Linked DNA regions of Homo sapiens: region 2 is linked to region 1. Evidence: fine-mapped expression QTL. A gene starts in region 1. The other region holds a variant in brackets. All regions are shown on one strand. Distances are from middle to middle. Region 1 holds the start of APBB1 (amyloid beta precursor protein binding family B member 1). Region 2 overlaps SMPD1 (sphingomyelin phosphodiesterase 1).

The links. PIP is the estimated chance that this variant, and not a neighbour inherited with it, causes the effect.
Region 2: its variant is fine-mapped to the expression of APBB1 in whole blood (TOPMed, PIP above 0.99).

The regions. Positions count from the first base shown.
Region 1 is chr11:6,416,721-6,422,094 of GRCh38, reverse strand. APBB1 (amyloid beta precursor protein binding family B member 1) reads left to right here and starts at 3,001. Exons shown (of 15, transcript NM_001164.5): 1 at 3,001-3,110. RefSeq lists silencers at 2,634-3,033, 3,044-3,233.
Region 2 is chr11:6,392,857-6,398,230 of GRCh38, reverse strand. SMPD1 (sphingomyelin phosphodiesterase 1) reads right to left here. Exons shown (of 6, transcript NM_000543.5): 3 at 4,844-5,015; 4 at 4,538-4,614; 5 at 4,190-4,335; 6 at 3,235-4,033. The coding sequence ends at 3,624. APBB1 (amyloid beta precursor protein binding family B member 1) reads left to right here. Exons shown (of 15, transcript NM_001164.5): 13 at 2,016-2,131; 14 at 2,269-2,445; 15 at 2,530-3,106. The coding sequence ends at 2,697. Among named protein-coding and RNA genes, the nearest start is that of SMPD1, 5.1 kb to the right of the region's middle. The variant G/A (reference allele first, on the strand shown) is at 2,502.

The DNA.
Region 1 (5,374 bases):
AGATTGAGACCATCCTGGCTAACACGGTGAAACCCCATCTCTACTAAAAACACAAAAAATTAGCTGGGCATGGCAGTGGGTGCCTGTAGTCCCAGCTACTTGGGAGGCTGAGGCAGGAGAATGGTGTGAACCCGGGAGGCGGAGATTGCAGTGAGCCGAGATTGCGCCACTGCACTCCAGCCTGGGGGACAGAGCGAGACTCTGTCTCAAAAAAAAAAAAAAAAAAAGAAAAGAAAAGAGGTTTAATCGGCTCACAGTTCTGCAGGCTATACAGGAAACATAGCACCAGCATCTGCTTGGCTTCCAGGGGGTCCTCAGGAAGCTTTTACTCATGGCAGAAAGCAAAGTGGGAGCAGGCATCCCACATGGCTGATCAGAAGCAAGAGAGTGTGGGGGGAGAGGTGCCATACACTATTTATTTATTTATTTATTTATTTGAGATGGAGTTTCACTCTGCTGCCCAGGCTGGAGTGCAGTGGCGTGATCTCGGTTCACTGCAGCCTCCGCCTCCTGGGTTCAAGTAATTCTCCTGCCTCAGCCTTCCAAGTAGCTGGGACTACAGGTGCCCGCCACCATGCCCAGCTAATTTTTTTGTGTTTTTAATAGAGATGGGATTTCACCATGTGGACCAGGCTGTTCTCGAACTCCTGGTCTCAAGTTGATCTGCCCACCTTGGCCTCCCAAAGTGCTGGGATTACAGGCCTGAGCCACCACGCCTGGCCATGCCACACACTTTTAAATAACCGGATCTCACAAGAACTCACTCATCATGGGGAAGACAGCACCAAGCCATGAGAGATCCACCCCTACGACCTGAACACCTCCCACCAGACCCCACCTCCAGCATTGGGGATTACAATTCAACATGAGATTTGATCAGGGACAAATATCCAAACTATATCAACACCCATACTGACCTTCCTGTATTTCTCCTGCTACTTGGAATACTTTTCTCTTCTCCTGGCTGACCTCTAGCTCCTTCATCCCTTTCCCTCACTGAATTGTCACTTCCTATGAAAGCCTCCTAAACTTCCCAGGCCAAATTAAGCCCACTCACATAGCTCCCGGTACATCTCCTTCAAGACACTCATCACATTCCTAATTACATATTTAATGTCTCTTTCCCCTGTTAAATTTCAAGCTGTATGAGAGACGGAACTGTATCTTGTTTCTTGACCTGTTGCTAGCACCAAGGACAGTACCTCATACATAGTAATTATTTGATGAAAGAAAATGAATGAATGAATGAATGAGGACACTTTTGTTCTTCTGGGTAATTCTTCTTCATCTTTCAAGAACCCAGGTCAGATGTCATTTCCTCCAGGTGAGATGCAGTCAAATCTGATTCGTCTTTAGATCCCTAGGGCCTGGCTTGGGACCTGATACATGGTTCATATATCATAGGCATTTGTCAAATCATTATAAACTATTGGTTGTGAATTCATAATTGTTGAAACTGAATGATAGGTATATGAGGGTTCATTATATTGTTCTGTCTGCTTTAGTATATATTGGAAATTTGCCATAATAAAAAGTTAAAACATTTATATTTACCACAAGTAAAATAAAAGTATATTCAAAGATGACTTTGAAGCTTCTGGCTTGGGAAGCCAGTAGTTGGTGTCATTCATTGGAATGGATGGAATGGAGTTGTGTCCAGTGTGGGATGTGTGTTGTGTTGTGTGTGTTGAAGAGGGTTCTTTTTCACCCCAGTGAAACTCCTTAAAAGACTAATAAAGGGGGATGAAACAATAAATTGAGGCTGGACACTGTGTCTGACGCCTGTAATCTCAGCACTTTGGGAGGCCGAGGTGGGAGGATCGCTTGAACACAGGAGTTCCAGACCAGCCTGGGGAACACAGTGAGACCCCCTCTCTACTAAAATACAAAAAGCCAGGCGCGGTGGCACATGTCTGTGGCCCAGGTACTCCGGGGGCTGAGGCGGGAGGAATCTGAGCCCTGGAGGCTGAGGCTTCAGAGAGCCATGATCTTGCCCCTGGGTGACAGAGTGAGACCCTGCCTTGAAAGAAAGAACGAACTCAGATTTGGATATCTTTAGTTTTAGGCACCTGAGAGGGATTAGCATGTAGAGGCTTTCTGGATGGTAATATAACCTCTCATTATCCTTGATGGCCTCTGGGTCACTGATCTGACCATTGGGATGTATCCCACTATCCAGGGAGGGTCTGTAGTAAGTATTGCACCCCACCATCTTCCTTACATCTTTACACTTTTCATTCACAATATCCCCTTCCTTGTGAATTTCTACCGGGGAGCAATGTATTCTTGACATTTTCCAGGCCTTGATGTCAGCTTTATGCTCAGCAGCAGAGGTATTTCAGTGTCAAGAAACATCGGAGTTCCAGTCTAAATTCATCACTAACTGTGACTGCGGGCAAGTCGCTTTACCTCTCTTAATCTTAGCCTCAGCCTCTGAAAAATGAGGATAATAATTCTGGTGATTTTACAGAGCTGATGTGAAGATTAATGCGCGTTAACGGTTTAATAGAGAGCCCGGCACGGTGTAAGTGGTCAATAAATACGAGCTATTATTATGAGCAACGCTGTGTCCTCAGAGCCTCCCCACCAGGACGTCAGGGAGCGGTGCAGCAGGAGCGGCGCAGAGTGCCTCCCGGGAATCCTTCCCCGCGCGGCCGCGGCGCCGCACAGCCGCCGCCATTCGGGCTCCAGCCCCGTCCGCGCGTCTCCCGGCGTGGGTGCGGGACCAGGGCGCTGCGGGGCGCGCAGGGTGAGTCTGTGGAATAGTAGTGGAGGACGGCGCCGCGCTAGGCGGGGGTCCCAGGGAGTCGGCTGCAGGGGTGTCTGCTGGGAGGGCTGGACCGCGGGGCTCACCGAGGTCCGAGGGCCGCCCGCAGGGTGAGGCCCCCAAGAAGCTGCGGCAAGTGCCGCGCCCGCCGAGCTCGCTCCCGCGCCCGCCCCAAGATGGCGCCCCTCCCCCTCCCCTTGCGCGCGCCTCCGCCGCTCGGGGCGCGGCCCCGCGGCCCGCGCGCTCCTGGGCGGGGGATGTTGTGATGGAGAAGCCGCGGCGGAGCCCGAACCCCGCAGCCTGAGCCACCTCCGTCATCTGGGCCCGGGGCCTCACCGCGCAGGTAGGAGGTGTCCCTGCCCCGGCCCAGCCCCGGTGGCTGCGTCCCGATCACCAGCGGCCGGCGGACCCTGTAGCCCCTACCCTGCGGCAGCCCGGGTCCCCCGGCCGGCCCCATCCCCCATCCCCGGGTCGCCCTTCCACCGCGCGCCCGCAGACCGTCCTCTCATACCCACCATCGCAGGGTCCACTCGGGCCCTCACACCGTCCCTTCCGCTGCCCTTTACCTCCTGCCCCTCGGGGTGACTAGGGGCGGGTATGGAGGACGCGAAGCGAGGGGCAGTGGGTGTTGGGGGAGGGGAGGCCCAGGTCCGGGAAGGGGACGTGGGGTGGGGTGGGCTGGCAGGCCGCGCCGATTCCAGCAGGGGTCCCAGGCCCTGGATCTGTCAAGCCGCATTCTGTTGCCCTCAGCGACCGAGGGGTGTGCCCTGGGGCGGCTGTGTCCCCAGCTCAGCCAGGAGGCCTAGCACTGCCAAGAACACTGATTAGAAGCAGTTTTCCCACTGCCAATTCCTAACCTGTTTTGTATCGGCCTGTGTATCTCTTGCATTCTGAGCCCCTCTAGCTATAGTCCCAGCTCTCTCCGCCCTTCAGAGTCAACGCTTGCTGTCTTCATTTCCTTACTTCCCATTCATTCTTAAAAGCACTCCACTCTGTGTCCCTGACACCCACTGAAACTGTCTAGGCCAAGGTCACCGGAGACCTCCTTGTGGAGAACTCCAGTGGACACTGTTATCTCCTTTACCTTTGAGTAGTATTCGGTGGGGTATGTCAACTCACTCTCCTTGAAGCATTTTCCTGCTTTCTGCCCTACAGCATTGTCTGCTCTTCTCAATCTCATTTGCTTCCTCTCCTCCTCTCTTTAGATGCTGGTGAGGCTCTTGGCTCTGTCCCGAGCTGTCTTCTCTCAGTATCTGTTCTTTCTCCCCAGATATTTTATCTACTCCCAAAGCTTCAAATTTCATATATATGCTAATGATTCCCAAATTTATATATCCAGCCCAGACTTCTTTCCTGAAATCCAGACTCATATGTCCAGCTGCTCTCTTGACATCTCCTTGAAAGACAAACAGGAGTTCCAAACCTATAGATTCCAAGCTAAATTATCTTCTGTGGTTTTCTCTGTACCCCACTTCCAAATCTGTTCTTCCTTCGAATCTCAAAAATGGCTCTTTGCCAATCTGGAGTCATGAGCAAGACTTGAGATTAACCCCTCTCTCACTCTCTGCATCTCATTTCACCAAGTTCTGTCACATCCACTGCCTAAATATTTCTCAAATCCATTCATTTCGCTCTTTCCTCACTGCCACCAAAGTTAATCTGGGCCACCACCATTTTTTTTCCTTGACTACTTTAATAGCATACCCTCTTGCCTACCTCCCTTTAACTGTTCTCAACACAGTACCCAGAGTAATCCTTTGAAAAATGCTTCCAATCACTTATTCATGCAATAAATATGATTTCAGCACCTAATATATGCCAGGCACTGTGTTATGTCCTGAAGATATAATTGTGAGCAAAAGAGACTGAGTCCTTGGAGCTGACAATCTAGGAGAAAAATCAAATAAGAATAACATTACAAATGTAATATGTACCATGAAGAAAAGCTGTATGGTGCCTTGAGAACGCACAAGAGCAGTAGCTAAACTGGTCTCGGGGATAGGGAGAGAGGGTTGGAGGACAGCTTCTCTGAGAACATGACGTTTGAACTAAAATATAGTGGATGAGTAGAAGTTAATTCAGCTTAGAGAGTAGGAGAAGAGGTCCCAGGAAGCATGGAAATCACATGCAAACACCTTGTAGAAGGAAAACACATGTCTTCGAGGAATCAGAAGAAGGCTACTGAGGCTGCAGAGCAGTGTGACCAAAGCCAGGGGCAGGGAGGAGGAAGGCAGGCGCCAGACTGAGCAGGAAATTTAGGCCATGTTAAGAATTTGGTCTTAAGGGCCAGGCGTGATGGCTCACGCCTGTAATCCCAGCACTTTAGGAGGCCAAGGCGGGCGGATCACCTGAGGTCAGGAGTTCAGGACCGGCCTGGCCAACATGGCGAAACCCCATCTCTACTAAAAGTACACAAAAATTAGCCGGGCATGGTGGTGTGTGCCTGTAATCCCAGCTACTCAGGAGGCTGAGGCAGAAGAATCGCTTGAACCCGGGAGGCAGAGGTTGCAGTAAGCCGAGATCTTGCCACTGCACTGTAGCCTGGGTGACACAGCAGGACTCCATCGCAAAAAAAAAAAAAAGGGAATTTTGTCTTAAGGTCTTTGT
Region 2 (5,374 bases), 24 kb after region 1:
AAAAAAAAGAAGAGAAAAGCACAGCAGGATTAGGGGGATTGCATGTGGGGCTGGAGGTCAAGGTCACAGTGTAGGTTTTAGTCCTGAGTTATCAAATCTGACAGCCTTTTTCCATACCTTGGTCCACTGCTTTCACTGCTTCCCTGCCAAACTTCCCAAGACTCTGAGGCCAGGCTCCATCTCCCACAGCCCCATCTATTCAGCAGTTTGACTATGATGTCCCTTTCACACACCTGAACTTTGAGATTTCCAATTGCCCTGGCCTAAATGTCATAAACATCACACCCCTCTGCCTGGCTTTTGAAGCACTCTGCAATCTGACCTGGCCCATCCACTTCTGTGACACTTGGTTTTACCAGTTCGGGTGCATTTGCCCTTGTTGCCTTGAGAGTGACTTGCTCATGCATCTGGAATTTCTTCAGCAGATAAGCCCTGTGTTAGAATTGGGGACAGAGGGATGAATTAAATTCCATTTCTGTTCTTGAGATGGCCACGGCCCAGTGTGGAAAAAAGTTTTCCAGCAGTTACAAGACGTTATGGTAAGAGTTGTCTCAGAGTTGTCCTCTCCCTGCCCTGCAGCAGGCATGGCTTCCTAGACAGCACCTAGTTGGAGCCCTGAAGGATGACAGTCTGAAGTTTCTCAGTCCAGCAGGGAAAGGGCACTCAAGACAGAGGCTTTTCCCTCAGTTGCAGTCTGTGTCTCTCAAGGGCATTCTCTTCTCTTGCTTTGTATTCCCCATCTGCTTTACAGGCCATTTGCCAAGATTAGTTGTTAATAATAATGCTACACAAATCATCTGAAGCTCAGGGAGCAGTAAAATATGAAGCTTGACAGCTCTGGTGAGGCCAGTTTTTGGAAGACTTGTATGCTTTTGGGAGCAGTTTGGCCTTGATCCAGCTAGAAGTCAGATGAGCAAGGCCAAGATGGGAGAAGACATGCAAGGAAGACATTTGTCCTCTGCCCAAAAGAGTCCACGTGGTCTGCTCCTAGTGGGAGCTGAGAGCCACTAAAAGGGGCAGAGGGCCTGGGAGTGGACCACAGAGGCATGTGCCTTTTGCACTGGCATTGTGCAGAGACAGTAGATCACACAGCCAGCGTATGAGTGTGGGGACTAGAACTGATGCCTTTGCCACAACATGTGCTCCTGCCTTGGTGCTCTGCTGAGTGCAAGCAAAAGTGGGATCCATGAGGGGAAATGTTTAACAGCAGTTTGAGGTGGAGGAGGCCATGTGTTATAAGGGAAAGTTGATTGATCTGAAAGTCAGGAACCTTGGGTTCCTTGGCTCTTGAGCACATTATAGACATTCTTGAGTAGAACTAAGATCTTGAAAGCCCTTCTAGTTCTGAAAACTAGTAATATAGAGAAGAGGTAGGAGAAAGGCATGGCTAAGAACCCAGGCTCTGGAATCAGACTGCCTGAGCTCAGGTCCCCATTCCTCGATGTGACCTAAGGCATATTACCTATCTCTTCCGTTTCCTTATTTGTAAAATGGAAATAAAGTAATCTATTGTGATGTTGTTGTGTGGGCACAAATGAGGTAATACACTGTAATGACTTAGCACAATGTGATACAGAGTAATCACTCCTCAGATAGATATCTTAAAAAATAATTGGGTCTTGGGAGAGGACTGGCCTGTAGGGTCTGATTTGGGAGTTATTGTGGTGTGAAGCAATGTGATGTCTGAGTGTGATGAGCGCTGAGAGAGCATGATTTGGGGAAATCAGAACTTTGAGAGGTCAGTCAGTTCAGAAGTGTGGAGGAATAGGCAGAGCCGGTGAAAATAACGAGCCTAGGATCCAAGATTTTAAAAAGTAGGAAAATGTCCAGTTACTGAAGCCAGGGGAGGAGAGCCCCAGGGAAGGGATACTTGGACAGCGTTGTCCAAAATGTAGGCTGGCAAAGTGGGGATGGGGCAAAGGCCCTGGGTTTGATTGGGTGGAACTAGAGGTCCAGGGTAGAGCTGGGGTATCCTCTGTCTACCCTCAGTGGTATCTTGTGTCCATATGTTCTAGGGGTAGATGTGATTAATGGGGCCCTCGAGTCAGTCCTGTCCTCCAGCAGCCGTGAACAATGGACCCCAAGTCATGTCAGTGTGGCCCCTGCTACCCTCACCATCTTGCACCAGCAGGTAAAGAGCTGGGGTAGAAGTCGTGGCTGCGCCTTGCCATAGAGGGGAGACTGGGGGTGAGGGGAAGAGCTGCTAAGATGGATGTGGAACACAGTGTGGGGTTGGTGTTCCTTTTTAACTGAGTTCCCTCCATGCAGACAGAGGCAGTGCTGGGAGAGTGTCGGGTGCGTTTCCTCTCCTTCCTGGCCGTGGGCAGAGATGTCCACACGTTTGCATTCATCATGGCTGCCGGCCCAGCCTCCTTCTGCTGCCACATGTTCTGGTGCGAGCCCAATGCTGCCAGCCTCTCAGAGGCTGTGCAGGCTGCGTGCATGGTAAGCTACTAGTAGGGTGGTGTGGTGGTGGCGTGGCCCCATGGGAGGTAGGCTGG[G/A]GAGTGACTGCCCTGCTTGCCTCCGCAGCTTCGCTACCAGAAGTGTCTGGATGCCCGTTCCCAGGCCTCCACCTCCTGCCTCCCAGCACCCCCTGCTGAGTCTGTGGCACGGCGTGTAGGGTGGACTGTCCGCAGGGGTGTTCAGTCGCTGTGGGGCTCCCTGAAGCCCAAACGGCTGGGGGCCCATACCCCATGAAGAAGCCCCCACCTTCCCTCCACCTGCTTGTGTTGGGCCCCAGGGAACTAAAGGGTGTGGGTCAGGGAGGGGTCTAGAGGCTATTCCTAGGCCTCAGGCCTCCCAAATATGCCCCTCCCCAGTAGCTACGGTTCCCTGCCTAGGAGCTGGGGAGGGAGAGATCTAATCCCTTCAAGGAAGTGATAACACTGGAGTGGTAACAAGAGGAGCAGGAAGCAAGGCCAGCCCTGGTTCTCCATCCCCATGTGTTTCAGGTGGAACAGGAGGAACTGGTCCAGGCCAGGCCTCATCCTCCTGGACCCAGCAGGGGCAGAAGGAGGAAGGGACTGGTCCAGGCATGGGTCCCTTCCCCCTGCTCCATGGGCACCTCTGCTGTATTGATATCACTAATAAAGTCTGTCTGCACTGCTGTGTGCCTTCTTATGCCTGTACCACACCATCAACCCATTAGCCTGTGCCTCAGTTATGATCTTGCTCCAAAGATCTCCTTGCCCTGCTTGCCTGGAAAGAAGAAATTGGGACAGTCACACAGGGGTCTGGAGTCCAAGTCTCTTATCTTTATTTTAACAGACTGGCAGCATCAGGTCGCAGCAGCAGTACAGGGTTCCTGGCTGGGCAGCACAGGCCTGGGGCGACAGCTCCTGTCTTGTCTGCCCAGGGCAGTGTCAACTTAGGCCTCTACTCCATGGCTGTGAAAGGACAGCAGCCTCAAGGCAGTCTAGCTCCTGGGCACAGGCAGCCAAACCCCCTCCCATATCCAGCTAAACCAGCTCCAGGAAAGGAGAAGGTCCTGTTTCCCCGGCATCCTTGGGGCCCAGGGACTGGTTCTTTCACCGGATGATCTTGCCTGGTTGAACCACAGCAGCATTTGGGCTTTTTCACCCTTTCCTACATCAAGAACTTTCCCAAATGTGGGCCCTGGGGCCCTAGCAAAACAGTGGCCTTGGCCACAGGCTCTGGGCCTCTGGGAGGCTCCCATCTGGCATCAGGTGGCGGCACAGAGCAGGGCTGTCAGCACGGGCAGAGAGCTGGGCACAAAGAGTAGCCAGACGGCAGGGCGTGCCACAGGGCTCCGAGGGTGGGTGGCCCTTATGGTAGAGAAACCAGAAGGTCTGGAAAAGTTGCATGTCGCCCCGCATGCGATATACCAGGTTGTGCCAGGCGGTAGGCAGTGTGTTGGGCAGCCCATAGGTTTCTCGAGCCCTGTAGAGAAGCTGCCAGTGCGGTATGGCTCCCGGTATGTTTGCCTGGGTCAGATTCAGGATGTAGGTCTCATGGTCCAGGACCACGTGAGAGCTCCCGGAGTAGTTTCCATCTATTTGGTACACACGGTAACCTGCAAGGATGTGGGGCTGACTGGAGGGGCAAGGAGCAAGGGTAACTCCAGGGAGGGGCCACACATCCTGCCCATGCTTTGCAGGCTCTGGCTCCAACCTCCTTCCCCTATCCCACCAACTCCAGGATAAGGGAGGCTCCCTTCTGCCTCACTCACCAGGATTAAGGCCGATGTAGGTAGTTGCACTGGGTGCCAGGAAGGCTACAGCCAGCGGCCGGCTCAGAGTCTCTTCATCATAGAAGACCTCAAATTCATCCACATGAGTGTGGCCAAAGAACTGAGCAGCCAGGGTGTTCTCATACCTGGCCAGAAGGTACTACATTCAGAAGATTCTAGGGAGGGGTAGGAAGACATCTGGGGAGATAGGATGCCCTCTTTCTCCAACCTGTTCTAGTGAGGAGCCTCCCCACTCCATGGGACAACAGGGATGGTGAGATGCTCAAGGGAATTTTCAGCCTTCAGACACTCACCCTGTCCCTATTCCCACCCTCATCTCCGTCCTACCTGGCTACAATTCGGTAATAATTCCAGCTCCAGCTCTTCAGACAGTGCCCTGGGGGAATGTGGCCAATTATATGCACCTAGTAGGGAGAATTAAGGATGGTAATCAGGGCATCCAGGGGTCCAGGCAGCCCTGGCTAGAGAAAGGGGGACTGAATGAAGGCTTTCAACAGTGACCATGAGCTGAATCCCCAGGGAACACTTGTTGGGAATGCCAGGAAAATAAAACTTCTGTGCCCAGAGGTGCTCCAGCTCAACAGGAGCCTGCTTGTCCCCCAGCACCACCGTGTTCCCACTACTGGCCCTCACTTTGTCTCCTCGATCCTCAGCAGCCTGAAGCTCCCCCACCAGCCACTGGAGCTGTCCTGCGGGATCCGTGGAGTTGATCAAGAGCCAGAAGTTCTCACGGGAACAAAAATTCATATTGAGAGAGATGAGGCGGAGACCGGGGTATGGGGAAAGAGCATAGAACCCCCCAATTCTGAAACAAAGTAAACATGAGAGGTCAACACTTGTTCCAATCCTGGTCCTCCTGTGCTGGGCATTTGGGTGGAGGGTAAAAGCATACATGACATCTTCCCCACCTGCAAGGAGCTCACAGTCTAGCCAGAGACCAAACAGTTCTAATTATTGGGTCTGTGTGACACAAAAGACTCTGAGGGCAGAGGGCTCCAGGAGTATGGGGGAGGGATAAGAGTTAGCTAGAATGGGAAGCAAGGACCACACAGAGGGAAGATGACATGGGATGGATAAGGTGGGAAAAACTGGAGCACTTAAAAAAAAGGGGGAAATCATTTCCAGAGGGCCAACATGAGCAAAGACACAGCTGGGGCATAGAGA